Linked DNA regions of Homo sapiens: region 1 is linked to region 2. The links come from fine-mapping of genetic effects on gene expression. Tissue or cell type: whole blood. Region 2 holds a variant in brackets; the other region holds the start of a gene. All regions are shown on one strand. Distances are between the middles of the regions.

Region 1 (2,653 bases), 66 kb before region 2:
TCAAAAGGTCCTACACAGTAAGAGAAGACAGGGCTAAAAAGATAAACGCAACACAGGAAAAGGCGCAAATAGCCTAAGAATTGAATGGAAGAGAGCCTTGTATACTGGAGAATGATTCCTGGAAGAGGAACTTTAGGTGAGCTCTTAAGTGTCCAGTACAGGAAGGCAGGGAACAATACGCAGCACTGGTCCCTGCACGGGCAAACCCAAGAATATGTGTGAAAGGTTGGTGGACAGATAGATGGTTCCCACAGGCTGATTTGCTACATACAGAACTCCATAGAAAGAACCAAGGTTATGGTTGGTCCTACCCTACCTAAACAGGAAATGGCTTATTCTCGGAGACTAAAGTGCCAAGTCCGGAAAGACCAGACAGATACACAGAATTACAGACTGTTACATAAAGTCCTTAATAGTTACAAGCCCTTGTTGTGCTATGTGCTAGTCTGCATTATTTTCACCTAAATGAAACCATTTCTACTTAGTACATGGCGTGAGAAGACGTGGAGATAAAGAGAATTAGCAGACGTATATTATCTGCAATTTATCTTACGGAGGAGTACATTAAGGAGTGTTATGTGAGATTATTTCTTTACAAACTGAGAATAGGTAGGAAGAGCAGCGAAACACAGCGCGGCTCGGTGCGCCCAGAGCGGCGTCACTGTAACAGTACAGAAGTGGGCAAGGGGCTCTCGGAAGGACAGTTGGGGAACGGCGCCCAGCGTATTTAGCGAACGGACAAGCAGCAAGGAAAAACAAGGGAGCAACAACCGCCTTCGGACATTCCGACCGGTTCTGGGATGCACCGGGGACGTCGAAGGCGGGGTGCGGAAAAACGCTGTGGCTGGAGTGCGGGTGGGAGCGGCGGCTCGACCGGGTCGACATTCTACAAACGCTTGTGGAACGAACGCCCGAACGCGCGCGTGAATGAATGGCGCGGAACTGAATGGCCGGCCGAGGCGCCGGCGCAGGAGGAAGGAGTTTGCGGCGCGGTCTGACCGGGCCGGCGGGATGCGGCCGGGCGCGGAGGGAAGGGCCGCTGCGCCAGGGGTCGGCGCGGGGCGGCCCATGGGGCTGGCGGCGGCGCGGGGCCGGCCGCGCCATGACGGAAGGGAAGGGGAGGGGAGGTCACACATTACATAACCCGGCGGCTGCGAGCGTCAGGGGAAGGCGCCGTGGACAGCCCAGGCCGCGACAGGACGGCCGCGGGCCGGGGCCGGGGCGACGCACCCCTCCCCCGCGCCACCTCAGGCCGACCGCGCTCTGGCCGCTGCCGGGCGGGTCTGCGGCGCCTCCGGGCGACGCGTGTCCGATCCCGCCCCTCCCCCACCCCGCCGCCGGCCCGGGGGTCGCTCACCTTCCGCGTTGCCCCAGACCACCATGCCCGGGCCCGGCGGCCTTCTCCGGCCTTGCGGACCCCGGCCCCGCCGCCGCCAGTGCCCTCGCCAGGGACCAGGGAGGAGGGCCGGGGGAAGGCAGCCCCACCGCTGAGCAGCGCCGCGGTCCACGCTCCCCCACGCTCGCGGCAACCAACCCCGCGCGCGCTCCGCGGTGGCTCTCCGCCCCTCCCCCTCCGGTTAGCGCGCGCGCCGCAGCCACGCCCCCTAGCGTTCCGCGCGCGCTCCCCGGCCCCGCTCGCGCTCACAGCCGCGCGGCGCACGCGCTCTGCTCCCCCCGGCCCGGGGCGACCCCAGCCTCGGGCGTAGCACCGCGGCGCCCGGCGTCGGCCTCCGTGTTCCTCCCCTCCCCGGCCCCGCCCTGTTGTTCTGCAGCCGCCCGCAAGGGGCAGCGCCTGGGCGGCACGTGACCGTCTCGCTAGCTGGGCGGAGGGGAGCGCAGCGCGGGCCCGCCCACGCACTGCGCCGCCTGCCCGCCCGTCCTGCTCCGGTCACCCCCGCGCTTCGTTGACCGGGTCGCGGCTCTTCGGTTGCCATTCGGACAGCGCGCCGCTCCGTGCACAGCGAGTCCCCGCGCCTGCCCCGCCTTGGGGCTCCCCAGTGGGGAAGGACACAAGTGCAGACACTGACCGGGCTTCAAACCCCGGTACTGTGTGAAGATGCGCCAGACGCCCGGGTTCCCTCCTTAAGCAATTGATTTACAGTGACATCTAGTGGAGAAAGGGACACACATGAACTGACATTTTCCTATGTCCAGAGCAACCGAGAACCACGGCCCACTCAGGTTCGCGGGAAGGAGCACTGCGCCACGGCGTTTTCGGGATTCGTGGCCTGCTCCCGCAGGGCACAGACACTATCTTCTGTCCTTTGAGTGCCCGGGCAGCATTGCGCCTGAGTATTTGTAAACGGAGGGCCGGTATCCCATCCCATGTACAGCGCTGGAGTTACCCGAGAAAGCAGTTTTCTATGAATATAAAAATAATATCCTATATTATGTATGCGTAAGTACAATTCTAATTGAGGGCCTTCTAGCAGAAAACAATCCGTCCATAAGGACCACTTTCTCCCTCTTGGCAGGGTCGCTTTGAAGACTCCACATTGTTACATAATAGTCTTTATTGTTGTAATGCACAAACATGAAGATACTTTTTTCCCACTCATTCCCTTGCCTAAAATGCTTCAGAGTTTGCAGGTACTTAGGAAACAATCAGTATTCTTTTGAAAACTGATTTGCAGAGTTGGAACTTGTTTACTAG
Region 2 (2,500 bases):
TGGCCAGGTTGTCGGCCATCTCCCAGTAGTCGTAGCTGTGCAGGATGCTGTTGGTGATGCTGACGTGGTTGGCCGCCATCTGGTGGATGCGCTGTGGGATGCTGACGATGGTCGACGGGGACAGGGCGCTGGCGTTGGAGAGGCTGCCCTGAGACCCCACGGAGCTGGCGGGAGAGGGGTTGGGAGACATGGGGGATGGGGTTCCAGTGCTCCTGGAAGGGGAGAGGTAGAAAAACCAGAGTGGCGAGGTCGGGAGCAAGCGAGGCAGGGCAGCCCCTTGGGGAACAGAAAGCAAAGCGCAGTGGCCCAGCACCATGCATTGTCTGGCTTACGGCATTGACTTTGGAAAAGCGAACTTACTTTCCACTGGCCCCCCACGGAGATGGGGCTTGGGCGGCTTTAGATGAGTTCTGCAAGAAAATAAAAACACTGACAGTGAGTGCCATCTGCGTGAGGTGAAACAGGTGACATGAACGTGTTTTCAGGTGACTGCAGAGAGAAGCAAAGGCAGACACTGCAGGAAAAAGGCACCTTCAGAGAAACTGGACCTGGGAAGTCTCCATCACAGTTCTCTGTTCCCTTTCTGGAAGGGAGTCGGGACAGCTGCCTGGACTTCGGAAGTTTAACAGTATTTCTCTTAAAGGGAGTTGCTCTTGAACATTCCTAAGAGAATATATTTAAATGTATTTCCCTAGCAGACAGGATACTCAAAAGTTCTAGTTTATCTGAATATTCTGATTTAGAAGTTATTTTGCATGGACAAGGTGCCTGCATCAGCCCTCAGTGAGGTAAGTGAAGGGCTTCACCCACAGCCTGGGTTTTTATGTACAAATTTTAGGTACCACATTAAGTCATAATCCCAACGGTCTGTTAAATCTTGAAGCAGCCTTACTTTTTCATTGTAAATTAATTTTTCTTAAAAGGAAAAAAGAGCAGGAACACCCTCATATCTCCCCTTATATACAATACTTTATATTTAAAAGTAGGACATGTTTGCAGAAACAGTCGACATACATTTACTTAGTGCCTGAAAATACATGACATCAGATTGTATTGTTTTAACTTAGGAAGTTTAAAAGTATTTCTTCTTAAAGTAAGTTGCTGTTGCATATTCCTAATAGAATTGATTAAAATATATTTCCAGAACAGACAGGATGTTCAAACATTCTGGTTTATCTGAATATTCTGGTTTAGGAAGTTCTGTTGCACAAGCCAGGTGCTTGCATCAGATATTTAAAAGTTTTGCCTCTAGTTAGGGAAGTTGCTCAATGCACAGTTAGATTTCCCCTCTGAGAA[C/T]CCAATCATGCCTTCATAGGACTGTTAAGGGAGAAAGCGGTCTTTGTGATGCTGATGGGAGTTTTCCCCTTCCAGAGACAAGAAAACAGCCTCAGCCTGGTTCTCCAGAGACAACATGTTTCTTTTGGTTAGAAAGAACTTTATGGAGTGGTGACTGATTTTTCTGGTTTTAGTGCGGGTGTTATTAAAATGGCAAGAAATGGCCTGTCAGAACTCTGAGGTGCTACAATGGCAAGATGTAAATGTAAGGACAACACCGCAAACCATGCCACTTTTACCTGTGTCAGGAAATACAATTATTTTCATGAGGAGAATTAGGAAACCTTCCTGAACAGGGGAGCTTATCCTCCCTTTCTTGACACAATGTTACTGACACCTTTCTCAAGCTGGTGCTACTGGACTGATCACTTTGTTTCCACTTCATCCTGTGGTTCTGAGAACGTGATCTATAGAATGCATGTTCTGGATATAAGAACACTAATGGCAGAAGGGGAGAAAGGCTTGGGGGTTGCAGAAACAGTCCAGTAAAGGCTACTGAATGGAGGAAGAAGGCAGTGACTCACGCCTGTAATCCCAGCACTATGGGAGGCTGAGGTGGGTGGATCACCTGAAGTCAGGAGTCTGAGACCAGCCTGGATGACATGGTGAAACCCCATCTCTACTAAAGATACAAAAAATTGGCCGGGTGTGGTGGCACACGCCTGTAATCCCAACTACTTGGGAGGCTGAGACAGAATCGCTTGAACCTGGGAGGTGGAGGTTAGGGTGAGCCAAGATTGTGCCACTGCACTCCAGCCTGGGTGACGGAGCGAGACTCCGTCTCAAAAAAAAACAACAAAAAAAGAAGTCTTGAGTTCTCTTCCTCTACCACTAAGCCCCATGCCCAAGAAATACCGGTAGGAACAAAGTTCTTTTTTTTTAGAGATAGCTCTGTACTGATAAAACACATATAGCCAAATTGTCTTGGGTACCTAAAGATTTCATGGTTTCTGAACTCAAAGTAGCATTTAAATAGCCCTTGAGGCTGGGTGTATGGCTCACATTGGTAATCCTAGCACTTTGGGAGGCCAAGGCAGTAGGCTCGCTGGAGGACAGGAGTTCGAGAAGGGTCTGGACAACACAAGGAGACCCTCTGTCTACAAAAAATGAAAAAATGAGCTGGGTGTGGTGGTGTGTATCTGTGGTCTCAGCGACTTGGGAGGCT

Evidence for each region. PIP is the estimated chance that this variant, and not a neighbour inherited with it, causes the effect.
Region 1: it holds the start of REV1, and the variant in region 2 is fine-mapped to the expression of REV1 in whole blood (TOPMed, PIP above 0.99).

Annotation. Positions count from the first base shown.
Region 1 is chr2:99,488,460-99,491,112 of GRCh38, forward strand. REV1 (REV1 DNA directed polymerase) reads right to left here and starts at 1,558. Exons shown (of 23, transcript NM_016316.4): 1 at 1,358-1,558. RefSeq lists silencers at 1,033-1,112, 1,183-1,282, 1,393-2,062 and an enhancer at 1,496-2,381.
Region 2 is chr2:99,554,323-99,556,822 of GRCh38, forward strand. It overlaps AFF3 (ALF transcription elongation factor 3), which reads right to left. Exons shown (of 25, transcript NM_001386135.1): 23 at 361-410; 24 at 1-212. Among named protein-coding and RNA genes, the nearest start is that of REV1, 66 kb to the left of the region's middle. RefSeq lists enhancers at 1-141, 142-689, 1,073-1,579. The variant C/T (reference allele first, on the strand shown) is at 1,297.